Homo sapiens: one gene and its partners. The protein of the gene in region 1 purifies or fractionates together with the protein of each later gene. This does not show direct contact. Each region holds a gene or a part of one and is shown on either strand. Other genes may lie near its edges.

Region 1 (7,780 bases):
TTTTAATGCAGTAATTCTAAAAGTCAAAATTCATACAAAAATCATGATATACAAAATAAATAGTATACGTCAGCAGCCGGGCCCTTGGGAAGGCGGCGATTGCCCAAGAGGAAGGTTGCAGAAGGAAGGTGGGAGCACGCGTGGAGGAGGAGAAGGAGGGGAAGGAGGAGAAAGGAGGGTGCAGGAGTGTGAGGAGAGTAGGCCTGGCTTCCAAGCCCACAGGATCAGAAGAGATTTTTCTTTTCTGTTTTCTTTTGCAGTTCTTGATCACGCTGCGAGTTTTGCACACAATGTTAGCACGCTGATTCTTCCACTGCCGGGAGGAGGCCCGGGGCTCTGAGGGCCGGTCCCTGCGGTAGTGAGCTCGTGGGGGATGAACGGGGAGCGAGTGGCCGCGGGGAGGAGCGAGAGGGTCGCAGCCCCGAGGGCTGTCCTGTGAGCAGGCTGCGGGGCCTGGCGCGCGGGGACCCGGGGAAGACGCTACAAGGCCTGGAGGCGCCGCGCCTTGGGACCCGGAGGAGGCCCAGGGCGGACACGTGGGGTGGCCTGGGGTCCCCCGCCCACGTAGCGCGGCTGCTGAAACTACATGTGCCCTGGGCTGCCCGCCGCCCTGAGCCTGAGGCCAGGCGGGTCAACGTCGCAGCACCGCGGGCTTCTGCCAGAAGGACATTTCCCCTCACCTCCTGACCACATCGGCCTTGGAGATGGGCGCGAAGCGCCTTACGCCCACAAGACATCCCTTTATCGGCTCTATAGCTGGGCGAGACTGAGGTCTCGGACGGAACGCGCGCACTCACACCCCATCCAGGAACTTCAGTGACACTCAGGGGTGCTGGCTCTTTGCTTTGCCCTTCGAGCAAGACTTGGGTAAGGGCTCCTCGAGCTTTCTGGTGCGGAGGCTTCCTGGGTCGGCCCGAGGCCTGTAGGTTCCCGGCCACTTCTTGCAGCTTGGCTGCGAGGGAGCGCTTCTCCGGGACCACTTTGGCTCGATAAACTAAAACCCGCGGGGTGTTCGTCGGAAGGATCCTGGGAGGCAAGGCTCAGACCCGCCCTCCCGACTCGCGGTGAAATCCAAGGCCGCGCCGCGCGCTCCCCACGGGGCACGGAGCCGCGCGCTGCTCTCGGCGCGCCCCGGGAACGCGCCGCAGCGGCCTTGGAGGGGCTGCAGTTCCTCTTCTCACTGTTCTTGGGAAGTCTTTCCTTTTCCGTAAACCTAATTTAGGAATCCAAAGGCACCGAAGCCCGTTAATGTCGCTTTTAAAGTGTCTACCAGAAAGAGCTGGAGGGAGGCTGTGGACAGGAATCTCCGGCCATGTTCGGGAGTAGACAGATGCCCTTGTGCTGAGAAGCGGGTCTCCCTTCTCCCATTCTCTCCTGCCGCCAACGGTGGCTGCCAGGCTGTGCCCTCCGCTTGGCACCCTGCCCCGCCGTCTCGGCTCTGCTCTCGACCACGGCGCCTGCGGACGGTTGGTTAGACCTGCCGGGACCGGTCCCTGCAGCTCCCAGCTAAGGGAGCATTCGTTAGCATTCGTTAAGCGAGGGACCATTGTCCAAAAGCCGGAAACCGATTACTTCCTGGACAGTTTTGGGGGTCGACTGTCTTCTGAGTTCCGGGAGCTACAAATGAGAATTTGAAAGAGTGGTGTATATAAGGAGACATCTTCCAGTCTTCCATATAATCAAATTCCATATAAACAAACTCAGATGTATAACAAAATTTTACATTCTTAGGCGCCAAAGTTTAAACGGGATGTAAATAACAATCCAATACCCTCCTGTGGCCCCAATGCTCTTTGTACATTCCAAAACTATCTACATTATATATGAGCACCCGAGAGACATGTTTCTCCAATCGCGAATTTGCAGTTCAAAATTAAATATGATTAAAATTCTGTATTATGCTTTACTTATGTTGGGTTTATTGTGAGTGTTAGGCTTTTTATACACATTAGGGCATTAATCCAAAGAGCTATCTTCCAGGTAGGAATGAACTATTGGCCCTATTCTAACGCAGATGAAGAAACTGAAGCTTTGAGAGGTTTAGTAACCTACACAAAGTCTCCGGGCTAATGCGTGTGTTAAAGTTAACATTAAGACTTCAGCAGCTTCCGCTGCCAGCAGTCAGCCTGAGAAGGGCCTAGAGAGATGTGTTAACGTGCTTGTTTTGTTCCAACCCCCGGGTGGTTTTACCTGTTAACCTGCGCTATCAGTGGCGTTTTGAAGGGACCTCAGAACTCCCCACTCTCCGCTTTGGGAAGGCTTTGAATCATCCTTCGACAGCACCTCTCTGCCCAGAACCGGTTCCCCGTTTTTATGGCATCATATTGATTTGCAAAGGCAATAAATCTAGGAGGAGGGACGGTGTGCCCCCGATAATAATGTTGCAGCATATGTTTTACTGCCGAGGTTTCAACACCAACAAGATGCATAGCCTAGAGATCCCCAAACGGGTCACCCGGATTTGTTTAAAGTGGCCTTTTCAATACCTCTCGTTTGCCGCCTGCCTCCTAACGATCACTCATCTTTTCTTGTATAGTATTTTACCTGTAGTAGGATGCGCAGTCGGGGTTTCCTGCACACAAGAGACACAGAGCTGGGCTAAGGCCGCGTAGGCACTTGGAAAGGAGGAGGAAACAGATTTGTGGCAATTCAGTTTTTCCCTTGCTTCATCAAATTTTCTGAAAATGTTCCTCTCATGATATTATTCATATTCCAGTCAAAATCATTGAGGTAATTAAGAAAAGACACAGTTGTTTTCCTCTGTGTAGAAAAACAATCAAAAGGGTTTTTTTATGAAGTATAATTTTGCGGCAAGTTTTTGAAAACTAAATTCAGCTAACAAGGTTTGCCACACCCTGTTGAAGCATATATCAAGGTCTAGACTAACCATAACATTCCCCGACCTTCCAAAATCCCCACTTCTTGAGGGAAATCTTTCTTTCTGGACAAATCCTAAGCATTTGATATAGGAAAGGAATCAGTGTGTGCCTTCCACTCAATACAAAGAAATGTCACTTACATTGAGAAGGTGTGTCTGGGGAGAGACAGGTTGGGGCGGGGGACTTTAATAACCAAAAAAGGGGTCTGGATTGGGTCTGGGTTGTCCAAAACCAGCAAAAAATTTAAGAATAGAAACGGATCCTCAGATGCATCCTGCGGTTTAATCTGAAAGCCCTCTGCTTGCCAGCCGTCGTTAACTCTACTCTGGCTCTTCAGCTAACAGCCCAGCCACAGCTGCAGGGCCAGGGGCTGATGAGGGTCGGGGCCCGGAGTGTGAGTCCTGCCCTTCCGTCTGCTTCTAGCCGCTGAGGTGGACTGGGGGGAGATGCGCGCTCTGCCACGTCGGGCCCTGTTTTTCTCTCTCAAACGCACATGGAGACCGGCTAGAAGACAGCGTAAATTCCTTCCAGCACCAAAGTCTATGGTTTTACGAATTTCCTCAAACATTTATAAATCGACACTTCGAACTTCGATAGTGATATGAGAATGCATTTTTTAGTCACCTTCATCCAGCACCTTGTTAAAAACTATTGACACACGATGACCAAGACAGGCTGAAATCACGACTCTTCCAGATGTCATCATTTTGTTCACACAAACGTTTTCGACAGCTATTTTAACTTGCCGTTTTCCCTCACAAATTTATTTCAGGAGTAGGGGGTGGTGCAGTGAAAAGTTGGAGTTTTAAAAATTATTATTATTATTTTAATTTTAAGACCCACGAAGAGGCTTCTAATAGCCAGACCGACTGGCTGGAAAAGAGAACAAATATTTACATATACAGCTTGAGTGTGTATGTCAGCCTGAGTTTACACGGCTCCAAGCGAAGCGGATTACCCTGCGAATTCGGAGAATTTGAGTTATTCAGGCTGAGCAGGGCTAACAGGACGCCCTCCAACAAGGCCGTGGGAAGTCCTCGTCACAGCCGCCTTTGTAAAACCAGAGGGGTCTGTGTCCGCTTAGTCCGGGCGCTACCATAAGGTTCGCACTCTCCCACTACGCGTCGCGTGGTTACCGTAGAGCTCCGCGCCCTGACCTTCGCCTTCTCTTCGGCAGCCGTCCCATTTTCCAGGGTCCCTCTAGGGAAAATAGGAGCCCCAGGCTAGAGACGCACTGGTGAGGAGCAGAAGCCACGGTTCTGAGAGCAGCATCCTTTGCCAAATGCCCGCAGCTCTCGCTAAGCTTATCTTTTTCAGGGCTGCATTTGCTCAGCCCCACTGTCAAAGAGATCAAATTTGGGACCATCGAATGAGAGTCCCAGCCCTGGGATCTGCCCCGAGTATGGACCTGGCCAGTTGGCGCCGGCTCAGAGGCGCCGGATTCTACTGAGCGCTTCCCTACTTTCTTTTGGAACTTTGAGCGCAGGTAAGAAAAAGAATGGAAAAAGCGAGAACTCCCGAGGCTTCCACTGGTCTGGTCATAGCTTCCCCAACTGGGCCATGCCCGGATCTCGGGCGTTAGGCCGCGGTGATGTGTCCTCTCCCGACAGCGCGCACCGCCCTCCCGCCCGGGGCTGTGAGACCAGGTGGGGATGTCCATGGCTGCTGCGTCAGCCTAGTGGTGGCACCCTTTTCCCTGAACCTGTGCTGGGGTACCGAACAGCCGGGGCGACAGGCCACGCGGGCGCCGCACCCTGGGCGCGCCCTCCGCGCCCGGCCCGCGGCCCCGCCCCCGGCGGCGGAATCAGGAAGCGGTGACGTGAGACGGCGCTGACTGGCTGCGGGCCTCCGGGATCGCCGCCGCCAGCAAATTAAGGCGCAGGGCAGCGAGCGCCAGGGCTCACTGTCCGTAGTTCCGCGCCGCGCTCCCCACGCCAGCGTCCTAGCAGCCGCGCTCGGCTGGTGGCCACCTCAGCCTGGGACATCCCGGCTGTCCCCAGCCCCAGAGGGAGGAAGGACGCGGAGGGGATGCTCCAGGACCCCAGGACTTTGTGCAGTTGATGCTCGTTTCCGCCTTCGGGCTGTGCAGACTGTCGTCCTGCCGAGCGCCCCGGGGCGTGCGCACCCGCCGTAGTGCTCGGTGGGCCCTCTCCTCTCCGGCTGCCTTCGAAGTCTCTGCGGCTCTGGGGCTTTGCGGTGGGGAATAGAGGCCAGTGTGCAGCTCTGGAGTCGTTGGAGCTGACACTTCTGGAGTCCCTGGCCCCGCTGTGACTGCTCTCGGAAACTTTGAGCTGTGTTTCGGGTCTTTGTCTCCCTTGGGGAATCTGGACGGCAGTTCGGACGACCCCGTCCCTGGCCAGGACCGCGTGCTGGGGACCATGGAGTTCACGGCGTCCCCCAAGCCCCAACTCTCCTCTCGGGCCAACGCCTTCTCCATTGCCGCGCTCATGTCGAGCGGCGGCTCTAAGGAGAAGGAGGCGACGGAGAACACAATCAAACCCCTGGGTAAGTTGGGCTACCCGGCTGTCCGCCGAGGACTGGGGATGCTGCGCATCCGTCTGTGCCCCTGGCTGCAGGCGGCTCGCAGCAACGTCTGATGCTCAAGCCATGAGCCATACATCGCGGGTGGGAGATCTTTTTCTTTTGGGTCCAAGTTTTCTTTGGAGGCTTCAGTCTGTTGAATGCTGTGAATGTGCATCTTATATCTGGGCCCGTCGGTCTCCTAAGTTGTCTAGAATCCATATATCAGATCAGACATATGGTGTGTGTGTATGTTTGTTGGGTTAAAAACATTCATGGAAAAATAATAATAAAACCCCTTTTAAGGCTCAACAGGATTTACTGTGCATGTAACACCTGCTTGTGCGTTTGAAACGGAGACGCTAAAGGACTTCATAAGAAACCAGTTTAATTTTGGTTTTCCTCTGACTTGAATAGACAAAACAGAGCAAGCTCTTTGAAACCACTGTAAAGCAGAATAAGCCAGTTCTCCCTACACGAACCATTTTATTCACTGAAGCTCTAGACTTATCACCAAGACATCATTTTATAACTGTCGTCATTTTCAGTTGAGGTTGGCAAAAACACTAACCAGTAACCATTTCTCAAATTCCTCTACTTTTAGTTATGTTGTTTGTTTAACAACCTTTACCATTTATAGAAGACACTAGGCTAGGAGTAAAGGGAGAACAGGGATTATGTTCTTCTTAACACTAGTGAATTACATGGAAAAGAACCACCCCAAGATAAATATTTAAGAATCTCTTTACAACTGAGGGAAAAAGAAGTGTTCTCATCATTGCCTCGTGGATCCCCAGGAAATAATTGTTACACAGCCTGATCGTCTGGTATCACTACAATGTGAAAATCAGATAGCAAACTTAAGTTAATTTTTCTTTTTTAACCCTCCCCAATTTTTCCTTTCTTCTCTCTGTCCTTCCCACACTTAACATATCACATCCAAAATAATGATAACATGAAAAAAAGGAAGTGTTAGAGATCAAAAATAAGGTGTTTGGGCTTAAAGATGAGAGAAGTAAAATTCCTGTAGCTACTTGAAACCAAGGAAAAAGAAACTAGTAGATCTGTAGAAAACAGAATGTCAAAAAAAAAAAAAAATCTGTCCTCTAAGTTTTCACCCCCTTCCCCTGGTTCTTCCCACCCACCTCCCATCTAAATCTAAACCTGCCAAAGAATGGAGACAATCAATCAAACAAAATCCAATTGTTTAGAAAAATATAACTAACAATTTCAAAGTTATATTGTGCGACTTCTCAACATTATACATTGCTGTTTAGGGGCCCCTGAATTCTTTGTAAACATCTCAGCTTGTTACATAGCAGGAAAAGAGGATTCCCGACAGAAGTGTAGACAGCAAATTGGGAAACATGCCAGCCCCAGCTGCACTGTCATTTCAACATTGCTTCCTTCTCTCTTTATTTTTCTGAGAAAAGCCACCTTATATCGAAAATTCTAAATCTTGAACTTTAAAGCCATGCCCAGCTCACAACTCCAACCCTACCCCCATGCCCACACACACATATAGGCACTAGTATAAAATGCATGTCCCTCTCCTGGCTTTTGAGATGGGCTCTGAAAGAACTAGCAGGCGTTCTTGTCGCTTACACTGGCCAGTTCAACAGAGGTGACTGCAAGCCAAGGACTCTATCAAGAGAAACACCTAAAAGTTCTGTTAAGAGAGAATGTGGGACTTTTGTTGAAGCAAACTATAGAGTGGGGAGGGGGATTCCAGTGTGTCCCAGGATTGCCCTTTTAAACATACAAAGTCTATTTAAAGGAACAGCTTCAGTCTGCTGAAGCATTTCTATTTCATTTTCTTCCTCTCCTACTTCCCATCCTGATGCATTGGTCAGTCTGGGGCTTAGGGAGTTTGCCTCTTTCAGTTGTCAGAAAAAAAAGTCATTAACACTACTTCTTAATTCCCTCCGAAGACATTATGTGAATGTGTTTCTGAAAATATTAGTAGAAAATAAGATTTTGTTATGGTATGGTTTCCTTTCGTTAATCTGAAAAAAATCAGGATGGCATTTAATTTGATTATTCTTAAGTTAAAACATTTTCATGGGTTGGATTATCATTGCATGAGAAGTAAAAGTAAAACCACTCTGTTTCCTGTTTTCTTCATGTACGGATGTGTAGGAAATAAAACACCTTATGATCTGTGCGTGTCCCATATGCCCACACACATCATGTACATGTACATACATACATTTAGAACTGGCTTTGATTTCTTGAGGGCACTTAAGAGATCAACTTCACATTGCAAATTCAAGTAGTTTCTTTTTTAAGGGATGGAAGATAATTGGGACAATTACAGAAGTCTCCCTGTATTCCATCAAAGTGACTGGTGTAGTCCCAGGCCCTTATCAGCTGTGGGGGAG
Region 2 (7,028 bases), on another chromosome or scaffold:
GTCACAGATTCAAAGTGCCTATTAGTTTGGAATACCAAAAACAAGAATATGTTTAAATTGCTGGGGGCTGCAAGATAGATCACAGTCACCCTGCCAGTGCAGTTGAAGTTGTGGGAATATGTCTATTAGCAACCTGTAATTCTAGGCTGTTATAACTTGCCTTTGACAACTGGCTTTGATTGGAATTTTCAGAAAGTTCAGCCACATGGGGTATAATTTTCTGTGCTTTGTTTTTACAGATCGAAAAAAAATAAAAACAAAACCTTGTTTGTTTTGTCACAAGCAAAAATGTTTTTGTGTTAGTGGCTTTCTTTGTTGTTTTATTGCTCTTGCTCCAAACAATTTTTGCCAGTTTTTCTGTATGCTGTTAACATTGTAAATGTCTTATTATTAAAGACATTATTAAAAAATAATGTTTTATTTCTTTGAAAAGGAGTGATGGATAAGGAAAGACAGCAGACCATTTTTCAAATTTTTTTCTCTTTATGTTACTATTACATTAATATTTGTATGTTTTCAATTTCTGTAGTGTTATATTGGTTTGAGGAATGTTGTAGTCTCCTGTATAACTGATGTGTTCTGCCAGAATTTCTATGCCAGTTATACTACACGTTCAAAAAACCAGATCTGCTTTTACAGAAGTATTATGAAGCATATTTTTATGATTGTCCAAGAAAGCTCCAGAATAACCCACTCATTTATTTTTCTATCTAGCTTTTTTGCTTTGAATGTGTGAATATGAGCAGTACACTAACAAATCAGAAATCAAACTCTAAGTAGCATCACCTTTTCCAACCTTCCTTTCAAAACATCAGCGTTTGTATAAGGCATTCTTTGCTGTTAACTTGCCTGCTGTGCTTAGGAATTAAGAGTCCGTAGGATACCAAATTTTCATCAGACTTTTTTGATGCATCTGCTTGGGATGTATAAAGAAACTGGAGATGTTAAGAATGCTGTGTTTGAATTTAATTTTTCTTAGTTTTGTGTGTTTTCTCTTAGAATTTGTGTCTTAAGGTGGTTAAAGATAGTGATGGGCTCTTGATTTATTGGCATAGGTTATATGAAGATACTGGTTTAGGTGAGGCTTTTATGTTTGTTTCAGATTTACTTGGGGCATTTTGAACAAACTAGGGAGATTGTTTGATGAAAGTCATGCATTTAATTGCTTTTCCTTCTTTGACAGTATTATGAAATGTCCTATGGGTTGAATATAGAAATGCACAAGCAGGTAAGTTATTTCTTTATAACCATTTTAAATGACAGTAATACTGGGACACTATGAAAAGAAAATTGTATGTTTTGCAGTTTTATTCTGCAAGCCGTTGTGGCTACCTGTATTTAAAAGTCTGGGTAGTGAAGAAAATGCTGTTTTTTCATGTGTGGCTCCCCATCTTTCTTTCATATTATCCTAATTTTTATAATTTAAAAATGTTATTTTAAAAAGTCTGAATACATATTAAACTCTGTACACTTTCAAAAGCAGGATGCTAAATTTTAAAATCCTCTTGTTATTCTTCTGAAAGAGTTGCTTTATGTATTTTGGGCATTGCAAACTTGTCTTGTGAAAGAGCTTTTCTTGGAAAATATTAAACAGTAAAATTAAATTGTGTGGCGCCTTCGTTGGCTTGATGTGAAAGAATGGATAGAGGGTGAGCTGGGAGGATGAAAATGAAATCTGTGGAGCTACAAAAGAAATTGATGTAAAATCCTTGTACTGGTCCCCTGAGGCTACTTAGTTGGGTCTTACCAAGAACTATAACCGTTACTTCCAAAATTTGTACAGAGTAAATGAGCCTGATAGGAGGATGTGATAAGGTTCAACATTGGGTCTTGAAATCTAGCAATTAGTTCAGTAGCAAAAAAAAAAAAAAATGATTAGTCAGAAAGCACTGAGAGATACGACTCAAACAGTCTTCTTTTTGTGCAGGAGACTGAATAAAATGGTTTGGCTTAAATTTCCTAGACAGAAGAATAATAGCGGGTATATCTATCTATATATATATATACACACACACAAATATATATACATACATATATATATATAAATATTGTTTGGCGATAGTAATTCCTCTAGGAAGCATTTATTTTTAGTGATCTCCTAGTGGAAGCACTTCAGGTCTCATCAGCCATTTCAGAATAGGTGTGTATGTGTTTGTCTGCTGGGAAAAAGACAAGGGAAAACTTACTGCTTTTCATTTCCTATTTATGGTCAAGGTGGATGTCATTACTTTCTAAGTTGAGAAAATATGAAATGAGCACATACTATTAGGCCTTCACTATTTATGGATTCCTTTTTGGGTATAGTTATTTTCTACATGCTCAGAACATCCCAGATAGTAGATCTTTAAGAGATGGCTGTTAGACAATAAGGCAATCTGATGAATAGTATTGGAAAACAAAAAGTTGGAAAAAAATGAGACGTTGCTTACATTGAGGACTTTTAATTTCAGATACTGTTTTACTTTGTATGCTATTTGGTTATGTCAATATTAGCATTATAGTATAGTTTGAATGGCCTGTTGAAATTAAATTCTTATTTTGGCATCTTTGTCATTTCTGTTTAGATTAGTAATGTAAATATCTTCTGCTTAAACAAAATCTGTTCAATCTTGTGGATGGACTTCTCTTAGTTCTACCTTACAGGAATAAATTACATGAGAGATATTGTTTGTTAATTATCCCATTACATTTCCTTTGAGGTCTGGATCTTGTGTATGTCTCTTTTTTTGTCTGCACCCCACTCCCCAAAATTAATTAGTGTCTTTTTAAAGATTGGACCAGATGATTAATTTAGTCCCTTTATTTCTCCTTCTGTATCTTGTTTACCCTAACCACTTAGTTTCCAGGTCTCCTTGTACCATCTACATTTCTAAGAGGCACATAGCTTGTATTTGGCTGTATGTATTTCTTTTTCGAGGGGGTATGTGAAATCCCTTAATTTTACACATTTTATACTGCTATAATTCTGTCATCTTCTTGTCCAGCTAGCCTCAAATGCCATCCATTTAAAATTGAGAACAGTACATTTTCCCTTTTTTTCGTTTCCTTTTAAATTCAATCATATCAAGAATCCTGAGGGCAGTTTATCACATTATGAAATACAGACAGCCCTGCAAACCACCTACTTATTATATTTTCTTTCTTTCTCCCCCTTAAGCATAGAGGCATATCTGTCTTTATTTGTTTTCCTAGGCAGACAGCCTTAGTTCCTCTTAGCCTCTCTTCCAGATGTACTCGCTGGATACCCTTGTAATGGAAAGCAGCAATAATGCAGGGAAGTTGCCCTGCGGCATAATTGGGCCTAGTTCTCAAGATCGGGTTAGGTTTATTCACTTATTAGATTTGTGTCTCGAAGGGTTCAACAGTAGGAGTCCCGGGAGCCCTTGGAAGTACCCTAGTAATTGGTGGCCCTGATATTTGAAACCTTTGTGTATTTTTTGGTTAACGTTCCTGTTCTTCTTGGCTGCTGCTAGCCACAGAATATTTATTTTTAGAGAAATTTTTCATTGGAACAGAAAATGGTGGTTGTGATGCAGTCATGGCTCTGTGACTTAGCAAACTGATAAAAAGATAAAAGTATGAAGCAAAGACAAACAGGGTGGAGGTCGGTGTTCTCCCTCCTACCCTTTCTATGTGGTGCTCATCATCAGTCCCCCTGTGTTGATTCTGATAGAGAACTATAAAATGAAACCTATGGGGAATTTGTCATTCTGAAATGAAAGCTAATGTAATTAGTACCAATTAAAGTACATTTAGTAAATTGGATTTAATCTTAATTAAGCCTGCATAATGTTGCCAATTTTTAACAATTATGTTTGAGAACATAATTAATTTAAATTTTGGTAACTGAGTAAATAGCATTAGTCTGGTAGAATTAGTGGATTTTTTTTTTTTTTAAAGGGGAACTTGGTGATATGACGTGGAATTGGAACATAAAATATGAATCTAAATTTCTGGTAATCTTTAGGATTGATAGAGCTAAGCAGATGAAGCAAAAAAAAAAAAAAGGATGAAGTATTCTAGGCTATAATGGGAATTAATGCTGTGCCATTGTCTCAAGTTCTAGCATAAAAGTGAAGATGACAAATAGGACATGGTTAGAAATGGCACATGTTTTAGTGTGACGTCTTCAAAATGGAATTTTTAAAAATGAAAGAACATAGGCCCTTATTCCCTAAGGATTTCCCTAAGTGTATGGTTTTTGTTTTTTGTTTTGTATGAGACAGCTGACCCAGGGTTTAGTTGTTAAGTTTTTTTGCTGATTGTTCTTCTTTGTAAATACAGTGTGGCTTCTAAATGGGTTGGTGGCTTCTAAATGGCACAGTGGGGTGATGCATGGAGTTGATAGCATTACTAAATGCTGCTTCTTCCCATCTTTCACCTGTAATGCTGTCATTAAAGAAGTCCTCACTGATGGACTCTGACAGCAGTGGTTACCATTCTAAAAAGTGAGTATTGGATATAGATTAGGAACAGTAGGTATGTGAATTCAACCTATAGGAACTATATGGAGATGAACATACCATCTTTTGAAAAGGGGAGCATGAGAACATCTATGACTTCCTTATAGTTAGTATTCTACAATGTGAAAGCTTCTTCATTTGAATTTTAGTAATCATCAGGAAATTTTAGAAATCTAAAACGCATAGAATCTGAAAGTAAGTACTGCACATTTATGTATGTTTTATGTGTGTATTTTTATATGTGTGTGTATTTGTGTGTGTGTGTGTGTATATATATATGTATATTTAATCAAAGCAAGAAAACTCCTGTTTCACTTAAAGCCATGTAAATTTTATTACGAGACTTGGGCCACAACCATTTGAGTGCTGCTAAAATATTAATTGAATAGAAATGAAAGGGCCTTGCCAACTGATAGGATATCATAATCATAGCCTCTTTGGTCGATGGTAAATGATGATAAATGACATTAGGAACCTTTTAGCAAACTGTAATAACTACAAGGAGGGAAGCAGTATGGATTTGCATTGTATCTGATACCCTCTAGTACCAAGTGGATTGCCAATACTGCTTGTTTAGCATTTTCTAAGGGCAATAAGATATTGATTTCTGACTTACAAGGAACAGCTCTATTTTCACCATTGAAAAGTATTGCAGGTTGTTAAGAAGAAATTGACTTGAAGAGGCCGACTGCTGCCCATCATGGAGCAAATAAAGCAAAACTGCCGAAGCATGGTGGAGCAGCGAGACGGGCCCTCAGCAATTTGTTGCTATTAATTTACCATGCTCGACAGCAAATCAATCGGCATCTACTTCATCTGCTGGAGAAAATGCTGTCCAGGGCAGATAAAAGGCTCGGCATGGTACAGAGAATAGACTGGATTGGCCAAAAGCAGGCTGCAGTTAATGTGTAAATAAGTGAAATCAAGGCCACTGTTGCAGAGGAAGCTGTTGTTAATTAGGTTGGTGTTTTTTAGTGAACTATTTTAGAAAGCAGCTAGGATTTGGAGAGTAAGAAGAGATTTATTGAGATTGAAGTAATACATGACTGGCATGACATTCTAGCCTTGAGTGTACTTGAATCTAGGGTGCAGTAAATTTATTTGGGGACACTGCTTGCTATGAAGTTTGTTGAAAGTTCATTTTAGACCACATTTCCCTTATGATAACTTTTTTTTTCAACCTTGCCAGTTTTTTGCACATCTTCTGTCTTATTGTGTACTCTTAGATTTAGAAGAGTAGATGGAGGAGTAGGTGTTTTAGTATGGAGGCACAAATGTGTCTGTTATATTCTTACCCAGTGCCTTTTTTTTTTTCAGAGATAGGTATAATTGAACTCTTGTATAATAATGAGAGTGAACTATCATGGAAGATGGGGTGTTCTAGCTGAAAGTAACTAATAAATGAAGATTTTGCTGACAGAACTTTATCTTGCTTCAGAAATATTAGGAAATAACAATCTAGAGGGCCTGAATAGTGGGTAGATACTACTAGATTATAAAATCTTAAAGATGACAAGTGAAATTTTGATGTCTGCATAAACTTCAGATACAATTATAAGACTATGTGTGTGGGGGTGGGAAGGGTTCTTGTGTTTTTGGTTTTCATTAAGGTTTAAAGCCACCTTTTCTAATTTAAGATTATTTACACGCTGATAATATTCCACAATTAATGTTAACGGAGTGAAGGGTATTGGTGGTGTTTTTTCCCCTTTACCTCTCATTTGGGCATTTTAAAATAGGAGGCCAACTTCATTTACTCCTGTTTAGTAAATCTAAATGAGTGTAGGTTTTAAATTAGATTTTTTCCCAAAACCCTTCAGAAGGTCTAGTATTAGGGCAGTTGATAAGTAAGTGGAAGCACCTTGGGCAGGACCCAGTGACCTGTCCTTTTACTTATTACAGCACCTGCACGGGAAGCAGATCTGGAGGATGAAATTTAACCTGTTACAGTGTGTGTATGTTTTAGGGTGTGTGTTTTCCGAATACTGTGGGGAGTTCCCTTTTTCCTTCTCCCATGATGGATTCTTTTGTCTTTCTAGAGATACCATAGGAGGATATCTGGATTTTTCACCTAAGGCAGTGATTCTTGAGTGAAATTGGAATTTCCTTTCAATAGAAGTAAACATTTATTATATATCTGGCTTGCGCTTACCACTGGTCTGGGCACACTGCCAAAATTCTTATCGTTAGTTCTCATAATGATCCTAAGACAGGGATTATATCCAATCAAAAGTTGATTAAACAGGGTCAGCTCTGCACAAGGTGATACAGCTAATAGTTGGTGGATTCAGGACTTCAAATAAATTTATGTGGGAGGATATCTCCTGGGAGATGGGTTTGCTATGGGTTAGAGATTCAGGCCCCAGTTCATTCCTGAAATAGAGAGTCCCTGAACTTTAGGCTCATACGCAGAACCTCTTGAGTTGGGGGATTCTCTGCAACTGCCTAGAGTCCATGGATGGCTCAGCCTGCCCTCTGCTTGCAGACTGCTTTCAGTGGGTGAGAGGGTGAGGTTGCTTTCACTCGGAATCTCCCACATGTGGGCTAGGGAAGCTGCTTGCTTAT
Region 3 (6,967 bases), on another chromosome or scaffold:
TACTAACTCAGCTAAAGTGCTTGAAGAATATTTTAAAAGACTCAGAGAAGTGGCTCCTCGGACTGGCAGACAGTTGCTCACCAGCCACCTTGCACCCCAAATAAGGGGCTGGGGGCTGGGGAGCCGCTGCTCTGTAAATCCAGGCCGGGCTTTCTGTCTCACCCGGGTGACTTTTTTTTTTTTTTTTTTTTTTAATGTGCCAGGAATTCCTCTCCCACGTGGGGTGGACTCCGAGGTACTCAATTAAGCAGCCAATGAAAAGTCAGCTCTCCGGTAGCAAATGACCCTGACACTTCTTGTAACATAAACAGTTGAAACGTTTCCAATTAGAACTGGAGACAGAGACGTTTGAACTCTTTCTCTCGACTCCCCTCCTTCTTTAAAATAATTGTCAAGCCTTTGGACGGGGTGTTGTATACATGTTTTTTATTTTCTTTTCTCTTTCTCCAGCATAAAAGACATGTATTTTTCTCCTTGTTTTTCCTAATTTGTGGGGTGGCATGTTGGGGCGGGGTGGGGGGGTGCGGGGAGATAGCGGTGGTAAGCTTAAAGGGATGTTGGCCTGGTTCCTTACCTCCCTGCCCCCTTCCTGCTCAGGGTTCAGGCAGCCGGTGAGAGCGGGGAGTGACGCTGGGTGAGGAGTGAGTGGGAGCTACAGGCAGGAGAGGCCTGTTCTCCCAAAGCCAGGCTCTCAGAAAGGGCTGGGCATGAATGAATGAATGAATGCCTTTTCTTCAGCAAAAACTTGCACGTATCCAGCTTGCGTAAGCAAAGGGGTCGCTGAGGTTGGCCATTAAACTGGCTGCCCTGGATTCGAATCCTGACCCTCTGCCCAGCTTGGGGCAAATGATTGAGCTTTCTCAGCCTCTCTTTTTTGCTCTATAAAATGGGGTCCCCAGCCAAACTGCTTCCCTCGGGAGTGAGGTAAGGGAGAGGAGAGCGCTGCCTGGGTAGCAGTGCCCTGCCTTGTACCTAGTGAGCGCTCAAGCGCTGTTCTTCCTGACTGCGTAGCGTGGTTCTACCGCCCGGCTCTGCGGAGGAGGCGGCGCTCTGCAAAACCGCGTCGGGGACACGCAGCCGCGAACTCCTCCAGCGTGCCGGGCTCGGCCCTGGCGCTGGGGCTCACAGGTGAACTCGACGTGGGTCTGCCCTGCTGGAGCGCTCTGGCTCGTGTGGTCACCGGGGGGCGTGGACGTCGGGGCAGGAGGGACACCCGGGCGAGAGACAGAGCTGCTGTCCTTTTCTGTACACAATCTTCGGAAGACCCGACCTGGGGGCCCCGCGGCTTCTCGGCCGCCTGCTGGCGGGCGCCGTCGGAGCCAGTCCAGAGGGAGACTGAGAGGGAGGCCCGGCGAGGCGCCGCGTCCCTGGCATCTTGAAGGCATTGTGTTTAATAAATCCGAGCGAGACGCACACCCGCTCTCATCCCCCTCTCCTCTCAGCTCCCAAATCGAGACCTGCTGTAGGACCCCCAGTTTACGGGGTCTTAAAACCCCCTCTACTTTGAGTAGCAGCTTCAAAGAGCTCCCTTTAAAGTTCGCCCCCTCCCCCGCCCCCACGTCCCCTTTCACAGGCCACCCCTCCTCCACCACTCCTTCTAGACTTCTGGAGGACGACGACAACAAAACACTAAATGCAAGTTTAAAGGGGGGAGGGGAAAGTCTTCAGGCTTCCTCCAGAACGTGGGCTGTGGAAGTGACCTGTTTCAGGCGTGCGCAGGAGTCGCCACACCGTAGAGTTTGGGTTTTCTTTTTCTTTCTTTTTTTTCCTCTTTTCTTTTCCTTCTTCTTTTTTTTTTTTTTTTTTTTTGTTTGTGTGTGTGTTTTTACCTTTTATTATTTAAATTGATACGTTTCATTACTAGGGAGAAAAATAAAATATTCCTTTGATACACAAAATCAAATTGATATTTAGCCTCTGCTTACTTTTTTATGCATGGCTCCTTTATACCACATGGTAGTGACAGATTGTTTGAGCTGGAAGGAAAAGCCATTCAAAGCTAATTAAGCAGCCATTCCAAGCACTATTTGCAAGCGGGAGGCTCAGAAGCCTCGGCATTTGTCAGCGCTCCCCCACCCCGCGTGGTTTTGACTGACAGCTCTGGCCGCGGACTGACAGGGCCCAGCAGCTCCGCCAATCAGCAACGAAGAGCCCCTTCGGCGGTCCGTGATTGGTGACTCGCACCTTGCTCGGAGGCGTGGTCGGCGTCCCCCACGTGGGGCTGGAGCGAGAAATGGGCGGGGCGAGTAAGAAGCGGGTGCGCCCACCCGTGACGTAAGGGGGAGGGCAGAGAAGGGGGAGGGGGAAAGGAAGCGCCAAAGAGGAGCCATTTTGTTTCTAATGAATGCTGCGGCCAGATGCTCGCATCTGTCGAGCCGGGCTTCTCCCTCCCCCGTCTTCGGTGCGCGCCGAAACACGATTTATGTTTTTATTTAGGAGAATAAATAAATGAAGAGGGGAGCGCGGTTCGGGGCTGGCGGCCGGAGCGGGCGCGGGGAGGTTCAGTTCTGAGGCGGGTGCTCACGTGTAACTCCCCGCGCTCCGGCCTCCGAGCGCCCGCTAGCTCTCAGCTCCTCATTAAGATGCAAAAGCGAACCTCCGGCTCCTAATGAGGGGAAAATATAGATCCGGGGACGCGCGGCCGGCTCGCGCGCGGGCTCGCGGACTTGCCGGGGAGGGCCCCGGGGGTCCCGCCTTGGCCGTCCACCGGGCGGTGCGCGCTTTGAGGTCCACTCCCTGCTTGCTCGTCTGCCCCGCCGTAACCCCGAGCGCGGGAGGGCGAGGCCATCGGTTTGCGGGCAAGCTGGCCCCGGAGTCGAGTGGCCTGTGCGACCAAGCGGGGGGTCCGGGGGGCCCGGGGCCGGGGCGAGCGAGCGGGGGAGCGTCCGCGTCCCTCGGAGTGTCCAGGCTAGCGACCGAGACACCTACAGGCTTCCGCCAACGCCGTGGCACTGCCGGGAGCAGGCTGAGCAAACCAGGTGGGAACTCGGAGTTCCCGGGCCTCGGCCGAGCAGGGTCCCGACCCCATCCCCAACCCCCTCAGCCTGGGGATGCAGTGAGGAGCCCGCGCGGCGAGGCTGCGTCGAGGGTGAAGTTGTGCCCACGGGGAAGGCGCCCCGAATGGGGCCAGCCGTGGCTGAGCCTGTTGTCCACGGGCAGCCGGGCCCTTCCATCTGCGCTGCCCGCCTAGCCAGAGTCCCTCAGACTTCTCCTCGCAGGCAGCCGCCGCACATCAAAGGAGCTGTTTATTTGGCTTTCTGAAAAGAAGGGCGAGTGAACAAAGGAGAGCTGGGGGCTAATGTGGGGGAGGCGGGCAGAAGAAGGGGTGAAGAAAAGGGGACATCCTGAGTTCCGAGCAAATTTTTAAAGGTCGGAGGCAACTTTAGGAGCCACCGTTTTATCAGTCCTAAATCTTTTGAAGTGAAAACATTAAAGTGACAAAGTGATTGTTTGTTTTATAGTATCTAATTGGGCTGCTTTGCAGACCTAATGAGATTAGAGGGAGGAATCGTTCGCCGCCGCTGCAGAATAAACTGATACATTACTACCAGCCACAGGTTTTGAAGATTGTACAGCTTGTCTTATTTTCTTTTGTTGTTATTCCTCTGTCTTCCCTCTTTCCTCCTCCCGCTAAATAATTATTTGCTAGTAGACCGTGGGAAAAAAAAGGAGGAAAAAAACTCGAGCAGCCCAGGACTATAATATATATCTATTTATTATATGTCTTTCGGTTAATTCCTGATCTGAGGAGCGCTGTTTTTCACTCCCATGCGAAAGTCACCAGCGGGTAGGGCCTGATTGCTACTTTTCATGCATAGTTTTAGACACAAGAGGGCATTGTGACGTCGCGCCCAGCGGCACCCAGTCGTAGGCCGAGTCCCGCAGCCCCACGTGGGGGCCCCGCGCTCCCATTGGCCAGCGCCGGACGAAGCTGCCACATTATTTTGTTACTTTTCAGTCCCTATTTGGAACTGCTCTCGCGGCAGTTCAGACCTCGTGCTCGTCCCCTTCGCCTGTCTGTGTGTGGTATCCGTAGGTCCGGGGCACTTTTTTTTTTGGTGTGTGTGTGTGTGCGTGCGCGCGTGTGTGTGTGTTGGGTGTGTGTGTTTTGGGGGTTTGCCGGGGCGCGGAGAGGAGAGCCGGGCCGAGGGGAAGGAAGGAAGCCGTAGAGCTCCCCGGTCTCGGGCTGCGTCTCCCCTCCAGCGCTCTCCTGCCTGTGCGCTCCGACGCGGCAGCGGCGGTGGCGCTGAGCGCTCCTCGGTGGGGACGCGGTGCTCAAGCTGGGAGCAGCGAGAACCCTTTGCGGAGGCTTCCCGTGCCCGCTGGACTTAGGATGCCAGGGCGTTTGATTTGCACCTACTGAGCCCGGAGTTCCTCCCCGGCCCTGGGAAGGGCTTGCAGCGGCGGCGGCGGCGGCGGCAGCGGCAGTAGCAGACGGAACAGCAGGCTCTCCTCTCCGAGGGGGGGCGTCGAAGCGCCCGCGCCGGGCTCCCGCCCTCACCCTCCGGCGCTCCTGCGGCCCCAAGCCACCACCTCGTAGCCCGCCTCCTTCCTCTTCTCGCCGCGAGCCCCAGGCCCGGACGCCTCTAGGATCGGACCCGCGCGCCCCGGATGCTTGGGGCTGCCCCGGCGCGCCCCCCTACAGGCGCGACCCGCTGAGTGACCCGGAGGGGGCCCGAGCTCGCCCCAGGAGGGGCCCCCGGCCTCGGGACCCCGCGCCGGACCTGCTGGGGAGCCGACGATGTCCGCGCAGTCCCAGGCATTGACGCGCTCGACGCAGCCCAGGGAAGGCGGCCGGCCGCTGCCCGCCGAGCCCTAGGCGCACAAAGCCCGCGCCCGCCGCCCGGCCCCGGCGCCCGCCGACGACTTTGCCGCCTGCTCCGCGGCTCTTTGTCTCCACTTGGGGCGGGCGCCCGACTCTGGGATTTCGCTGCGAGAACGAGCTGGGGGGGCCGGGGGCGAGCTCTCGGTTTCCCGGCCGCCCCCCGCTCGGGCTCGGCTCCCCCCTCCCCCGCACCTCCCCGGCCCGGGCTCTCGGCGCTTCCACGCTCTCGGAATCACGACCCCTCCCTGCCATGTATCCGCAGGGCAGACATCCGGTGAGTAATTGCAACTCGGTTTATTTAAGCATCTATCATGGCAGGGTAAACGAGGCAGTTTATCTGGCACCTCCATTTTGCTTGTTGCTACCTTTATGGTGTGTGTGTTTGTGTGTGTGCTCTCACACAAAGGGGGATGCGGCCGGGGGGCGCCGTTGAGAGAGGAGGTTAATTCCGCGCGAGTGGCGCGGGGGGCTGCTTGTGTTCCAGGGGGAGCTGTTCACGCGGTCCCCGGCCCCGCTCTGAAGTCTCCCAACTCACCCGGCTTGTCTCCCGCCCCCGCCTTACTGGGGAGAGGGAGGCCCTTGGTGAAAGGCATGGGAGCCCCGCTGCCGACGGGGAGAGATGGGGCGCCCCCCCTCCGCCCCGTCGGAGAGCTGAGAAACTTGCTGGGAAGGTTCTGGGCTGAGGGTGGCCTCTTTTGGTTGGGCGCCGTTGGGGAGGGGCCGGGGCCGCTCTGAGCGCGGTCTCATGCCCCCGCCCCCTCCCCTGTCTTGTCTTCGCGGGCTCCAGGCTCCCCATCAACCCGGGCAGCCGGGATTTAAATTCACGGTGGCTGAGTCTTGTGACAGGATCAAAGACGAATTCCAGTTCCTGCAAGCTCAGTATCACAGGTAAGGCCGGTGGGGGCCGCCCCGGGGCTGGCGGGGAGGGGTGGGTCCCCTGCGCGGCTCCTGCCATCCCCCGCGGGGACGGAGGGGGCTCCCGACCTAGGGGCGGCGGGGCAGCCCGGGCCTCCGCCTTTTGTTTCCCCTTTCCGAGCGCGCCGCCTTAACCCTTTACTGCCCGCAGCAGCCCGGCTCCCAGCGCCGCCCGTGGGGTCCCCGAATGAGGGTCTAGGTCGCGGCGAGCGGGTTCACTCCGGGTTCTGGGTGTCGGGAGCCAGCGTCAGGGTCCTACTCCCCTGCTGCCGTGATAAGTCCTTTGGCTCGCGGGAAGTTTCGAATTGTTTCACATCCCCCTCCCCACGGCGGGGACCCAAATCCCCCCGCGTCCCCAGGCTGTGGGATAATGGGGGCGCCCCCGGGGGGGTGTCAGGAAAGTGGAAAAGTGGCTCTAGAGGCCCTTGGGTCGGGGCCTCAGAGGAGGCTGTCCAGGCGCCACGCCTGAGCCGGCTCCTCCTGCCCTCGCAGCCTCAAAGTGGAGTACGACAAGCTGGCAAACGAGAAGACGGAGATGCAGCGCCATTATGTGATGGTGAGATGCGGCCGCGGGCCTGGGGGGCGGTTGGGGCGCCGACCCCGGCCGGGGGCGCGGCGTGGATCTGGGGAGATGAGCGCCAGGTCCCCACCACCGCCCAGCCGCAGGGCGGCCCTGAGAGAGGGCATAATCTGGTCTTGCCCTCCCCTTCCCCAGCTTCCATTGCCGGGGCCACTTGGAGGAGGGTGAGTGAGGGGAGGGGCAGAAAGAGAAACCCCGATTCCAGGCCGGAGACTTCTGTACTATCTTTATGTGCCTTTAATTTGTGTTTTGAAAGTTTCCCAGGGGCTGATTGCCATTGCCCTATCTTGGCTAGTAAGATAGGATTGGACCAGCCCATGTGAAATTAGGGTTGGTAAAAATCTCTCTTAGTGACCTCCTGGGAGTGTTTGGAAACTTTTCTGCTTTGCAGCTGGGATCTAGCCAGAGTAGGACAGAAGCCCTCCTTCCCCAGGGTGTTGTGAGGAGTGGAGAGGCCTTGTAAAGCTCTCTCTGCCTCCACTCCCCTCCTCAGGGATCCCCCAGCTGGGTATCTTCTCCACGCTGGGGCAGTAGGCAGACTGTCTTCCTTTTGCCCAGCAAGTTTTAATCTTCATTTGTGAGAGGGCACGGCTCCCTGCACTGCTTTCCACATAAGAGGCCTTCGACACAGTGCTAAATAACTCTCA
Region 4 (5,393 bases), on another chromosome or scaffold:
TCCAACCTGGGTAACAAACAATGTGAACTCAAATCTTTAAACAAAAAAAAAAAAAAAAAAAAAGGAGAGAGAGAGAGAGAACGAAAGAAAGAGAGAAAGGGAAAGAGAAAGGGAAAAGGAAGAGGAGATTGGGCCTTCCTAGAAAAAGGAATATTTTGCCTTCCAATGAATCACCAGAAAAAAGTAGAGCTTTAATCTTTGACCTTGAATCACAATAGTATCATAACAAAAGAACAAATCTTGATGAAGTAATTTTACTTTCCTAAAGAAAACTGTCATTAGTAAACCTTCAATTACTCACAATTCCTAGTCTTGAGCTCCCAGTAACTCAAGCTTGTGAAGGATTAGGTTCTAATGCAATGGGAGCCTACCACCAAATATATTTATAAAATAAGCAGTGCAATTCAAAACTTCCTCTACAAATGTATAATCTTTGCTTATAAAACCCACATTGATGATCCCAAAGCTTTAATAAAAAACAATAAAGAAAGAAAAGGAAAACCACTTATTGGTACTAAAGCCTTTACTGTAATAAACCAAATATATTTACAATTTATACAAATGTTTAACCTTCAACAAAAATACAAAAAAACATTTCACAAGATGCAAAACCAGGAAACAAGTTCATTGGAGACACCACTGCTCTACAAAGGACGGAAAGTGAGGTGAACTGCAAGGAACAGAAAGGTAATCTCACACTTGGGCAAGGCGTGATCCCCAGATCACCCAGAAAGAAAGAATGGGCTGTCATGTGAGTCGGCAGATTCCGTTCCTCAATCCTACAACCCATGGCCCCTCTGTCCGCTTGGCCTTGGTGCTCCATTTGGTCTATGTAGACAGGTGACTTTCTGCTGATGGACTTGTCGCCTCCTCTTTGTAGACTCAAAGTAGTTTTCTGTCAAGGTTTGGAAACAGGTGTTTGTAATTTTTTTTCTCTTTTAAAGTTACAACTTTTCTATTTCTATAAATTCGAAACATTTTGGCCCAATTCAACTATAAACGTTAAACCACATAATGTTTTCAGTAGATGACTTCATAGACTGTAGCCTTCTTGTCCCCCGAGCCAGTGACTATGTACTTATCATCCACAGAGATGTCACAGCTAAGCACTGACGAGGACTCTTTGGACTGGAAGAGAAAACAATGGACATGTGTTTAATGTGGAACAACGGTACTCAGAGGCCCTGCTCCCTCGGAGGCACCTTCACTCCTGGCTTCAGAGGCGACACTGTGGTCAAACTGTGGATCTAGGTGAGGAGTACTTACTCACCTGGAATATGCTGGCTCCATAGGGGGTCCGCCAAGCATTGAGGAGGTTATCTTTTCCAGTACTCACAAACCATTTACCTAGAATTAGCAAAGGAATATCTAGTTTTCACAAGGTTAAAATTCCTACTATACAATTAGCAACTTGGACTTAATCAAACTAAGAACATTTTTAATATATGAACTATCATGCCCTAAGGACTGGTCCATGATATGAACAGAGGTTTTAATCTGGGCTCCTCAGTGATTTATCAGTGATCTTGGGTATAATCTAAGAGGTATCAGCCTCCTTAGTCACTGGATACAGGACTAGTAGCATCATATCCAACACACGGTAACCCTCAAATATAGAAATCAATGAAGAATGTGTTCTATTTTAGTCAGTCTCCTCATGATAAAATGGGATTAAAGATTCCCATCTTTAATGGGAATTAAAGGATTAAACATCCAACTTAAGTAAAATGCCAGTCACATCATATAGCATGAAGAAAAATGCTCAATAAGTGATAGGCACTCATCCACCCATCCATCCATCCATCCATCCATCCATCCATCCATCTATGCATACTGTGAACAGATATCTGCCCATCTGCAGCACACAAGAAGGGTCACCACATGAACTTCTTCCCTCTTCATCCTCACTGTAGAGTAGAGTGTAACTAAGTGTCTGCGTATACCTAAATATCGACTTCTCTAACCCTGGATTCCTCATCATGGCCAGCTCATAATGACTTCCACTGCCCCTGCTCCATTCTTCAATAAATTCCCGCCCACCCCTCTTCAGAGTAGAAACTCATTGTCGTCTCCCAACCCCTCCAAAACAAACTTGTGTCCAAACCGTGTATTAGGCAATCACATTGCCTGCTGACTTTTCTCAAATTAGCAAAACAGACTGAAACAGACATTGCTGTGCTCTGAAGGGCATATTAAAACAATAGAATTATTGCATCCAGCTGCTCGGAGAACATTTTTTCCAGATTATGATCTCTACCATATTTTTTTAAGAAGCATTTTCCATTTGGGCCATCAACGGCCTCCAGTTTCCTTTCGGCTGAACTCACCACAGTAAGCAAATTTCAGGGACAGCACGCAGCTCTCATGCAGGTGCAGCTGGTACTTGTCAGGCTTGTTCACGTGCAGCACCTCCACATTGCTGCTCTCCATGCCCACTGCCAGCCACTCCCCGGTGGGGCAGTACCCCAGGGAGAAGATCTACAAGGAGCAAGACAGGCTCACTCATTATTCCGCCTGATACACTTAGGAAGGGAAGACGCAATGTGAAAAGTGGGGAAATAGCAAGAATGGGGGGAAGTAATCAGCCAAGTCCAGACTGTGGGGAGGTCCACAGGGCAAGTGATCTAACGCAGATGAACCAAGTGTCAAAACCTTTAGGAAACTGGAAACATTTGAACCCCTCTGTCTTTTGGGATAAAATTAAGAAATGATTCCTAATAATAATGGCATTCATCTGTACATTTTAAAGGAGGCTTTACCTTTTAGAGACACTAACTGAAATACGATCATATATCACCTATCAAGGGGGATACATTCTGAGAAATGTGTCGTTAGGTGACTTTTTTTTTTTTTTTTTTGAGACGGAGTCTTGCTCTGTCGCCCAGGCTGGAGTGAAGCGGCGTTATCTCGGCTCACTGCAAGCTCCGCCTCTTGGGTTCACGCCATTCTCCTGCCTCAGCCTCCCAAGTAGCTGGGACTACAGGCGCCCACCACCACGCCCGGCTAATTTTTTGTATTTTTAGTAAAGACGGGGTTTCACCGTGCCAGCCAGGATGGTCTCGATCTCCTGACTTTGTGATCCACCCGCCTCGGCCTCCCAAAGTGCTGGGATTACAGGCGTGAGCCTCCGTGCCTGGCCTTGTTAGGTGACTTTATTGTGTGAACTTCAGAGAGTGCACTTACACACACCTAGAGAGTGGAGCCTATCGCTTGTAGGCTACAACCCTGCACAGCATGTTACTGTACTGAATACTGTAGGCAACTGTAGCATAACGGGAAGTATTTGTACATCCAGATACATCTAAACATTGAAAAGGTACAGTAAAAATATAGTATTATAATCTTAAGGGACCACTGTCACATATGCGGTCTGTCCTTGGCTAAAAGGTTATATGGTGCATGGCTGTGCTTATGGATACAATGATATGCTGCTAGAGTTTATTTTAAAATAATCCAGTGTCTGGGGGTGGGAACGAGAGTTATCATATGGCCAAATAACTTCAAGCTGAGCGATGGGCATGTGGCATTTATTGTACAATTCTCTGTGCTTTCATAAATGCTTGGACATTTGCTGTACTCATATGTATTTGAGAATTTCTCTAAGAAGTTTTAAAAAAAGGCAGAACAAAAATTGTATCCTGCTTATGTTGGGAAAGAGTGAAAACAGCAAGACTCTAAGAAACTCAACAAAATGTTAACAGGAATATGAAATTTAGAAGTATATATGCTTGTTTTCTGTTTCTGTCCTAGTTTTCTGAGTAGAATTATTTTTATTACAAAACAAGGTAAAAAATAAATGCCAAGTCATGATCGAAAGAACAATTCTACCACCAGAAAGCATTTAAAATGGCAAACACTGTTTTTTCCAAAACAAGTCTACATTCAGACATTGGACATCAAAATACTTTTCACAATCTACAAAGTTGCCATTTATACATTATTTCAAAAGTCTGCAAATCTAGTCAGCCACCAGTTCATTTTTTAAAGGATGAGGAATAAAATGGGTATCACTGAGGTATCTGTGCATTTTTTTGAGCTCTCTGGTGCGGGGTAAATAAATGAACTTTCAGAGGAGCTGTGACTTTTCTCTACTCTTAGTGACATTCTGCAGATTTCTCAAGTTCTATTTATTTAGGAATCAAAAAATCATCTCCTACTCCTGCATTAGATGGTGAGAATATGTGCCACAGATCAAACACTGCTGAAGGAAAACTATACATTCTTCAATGTACAAATCCCTTAAACAAACTCATATGTAAATATAACAGAGAACACACCTTAACCTACAGGATTCTAAAAACCACTCTAGTTTTGGGGAAGGTAGGGGGAGGGTCGTGAAGGAGGAGGTGGTGGTCATTGTTTTTAAATTAGTTATCTCAAATTCAGCCCTGATCTGTTTGTCCAGCCACTACCATCCTAGGGTAAAGGAGGGAGGGTTGTGAGGAGGAAGACACACCCCAGCCACCTCCCAGACTCCAGGGCAGGCGGAAGCCACTCAGTCACCTGGGAGGTGAAGTCGTGCTGCTGCAGCTGCCGCCCCTCGCGCAGGTCCCAGGACCTGACTGTGTTGTCCAAACCACCCGTCCAGAGCTTGGTGCCATCATTAGAAATGTCAATACAGCTGGCTCCGTCTGTGTGGCCCTGGAATTGCCTGATAAAACAAACCAGATTGAATAATGATTTCCTGCCAGAGCTCAAGGTAAACACTGTTGTGTTGTTAGTTTTGGACCGTGTGTGTGTGTGTGTGTGTGTGTGTGTGTGTGTGTGTGATCCCGCCAGTGTCTGCTGATGTGCAAGATCAAACTAACCTTCCCCTGAGGAGGAGGGGAAACAGCACCTGCGATTGTCTTTCCCTGTTTTCCACGATCCAAGTGCTAAAGAAATGGAATGCCACTGCAGGTCACTACCCAGAACTTAAATATGCTACTCTGACAAAACCGTCTGGAAGGTAAAATTCTTTCCAGGTCTGGAAAAGTGTTTAATTGTTAAATAGAAAATAAAAGACAAACACACAAAATCCCGATTGTATTCCTTATGGGAAGATAAAGGTCTGTTCTTTAATCGTGCAGGCCTGAGTCCGTGAGAGAAAGAAATGGGGACGTTACAAGCACAGGGTGTACAGAAGCATTCCTGTTTCCATGAGTGAATCAACACAGCAATGCCCTACGTGCCAACAGAGCATGAGCTCATGTATTTACTCAACCTTGCTTTCTGTGTTAGAAAGAGCCCTGCATTAGGAAATCTGGACTCCCAGAGACAAAGGGTCACGCATGCCGGCCTCCTGACCTCAGAGGCATTGGGCAGAGACACAGGTAATTGCTGAGGCAGACCCACGGGCACCTCAGCAAGACTCTGCCTCCAAGCGGAGCACAAGGTTGTTCTTTAAAGAACCT

What was found.
Region 2: the proteins of TBX20 (region 1) and TLE4 purify together in Homo sapiens (affinity purification with mass spectrometry; 3 studies listed by BioGRID and IntAct, with this or other methods). This does not show direct contact.
Region 3: the proteins of TBX20 (region 1) and TLE3 purify together in Homo sapiens (affinity purification with mass spectrometry; 3 studies listed by BioGRID and IntAct, with this or other methods). This does not show direct contact.
Region 4: the proteins of TBX20 (region 1) and TLE1 purify together in Homo sapiens (affinity purification with mass spectrometry; 3 studies listed by BioGRID and IntAct, with this or other methods). This does not show direct contact.

The regions. Positions count from the first base shown.
Region 1 is NC_000007.14:35,251,098-35,258,877, reverse strand, and holds the start of TBX20 (T-box transcription factor TBX20), read left to right. Parts: upstream 1-4,777; 5' UTR 4,778-5,257; coding exon 5,258-5,384; intron 5,385-7,780. UniProt on the Homo sapiens protein: Acts as a transcriptional activator and repressor required for cardiac development and may have key roles in the maintenance of functional and structural phenotypes in adult heart.
Region 2 is NC_000009.12:79,574,950-79,581,977, forward strand, and holds part of TLE4 (transducin-like enhancer protein 4), read left to right. Parts: intron 1-1,183; coding exon 1,184-1,228; intron 1,229-7,028. UniProt on the Homo sapiens protein: Transcriptional corepressor that binds to a number of transcription factors. Inhibits the transcriptional activation mediated by PAX5, and by CTNNB1 and TCF family members in Wnt signaling.
Region 3 is NC_000015.10:70,094,907-70,101,873, reverse strand, and holds the start of TLE3 (transducin-like enhancer protein 3), read left to right. Parts: upstream 1-3,956; 5' UTR 3,957-5,075; coding exon 5,076-5,099; intron 5,100-5,121; exon of another isoform or gene 5,122-5,194; coding exon of another isoform or gene 5,195-5,197; intron 5,198-5,612; coding exon 5,613-5,713; intron 5,714-6,232; coding exon 6,233-6,296; intron 6,297-6,967. UniProt on the Homo sapiens protein: Transcriptional corepressor that binds to a number of transcription factors. Inhibits the transcriptional activation mediated by CTNNB1 and TCF family members in Wnt signaling.
Region 4 is NC_000009.12:81,583,178-81,588,570, forward strand, and holds the end of TLE1 (transducin-like enhancer protein 1), read right to left. Parts: intron 4,700-5,393; exon of another isoform or gene 4,652-4,699; coding exon 4,504-4,651; exon of another isoform or gene 4,498-4,503; intron 2,479-4,497; coding exon 2,328-2,478; intron 1,348-2,327; coding exon 1,271-1,347; intron 1,129-1,270; coding exon 1,021-1,128; 3' UTR 506-1,020; downstream 1-505. UniProt on the Homo sapiens protein: Transcriptional corepressor that binds to a number of transcription factors. Inhibits NF-kappa-B-regulated gene expression. Inhibits the transcriptional activation mediated by FOXA2, and by CTNNB1 and TCF family members in Wnt signaling.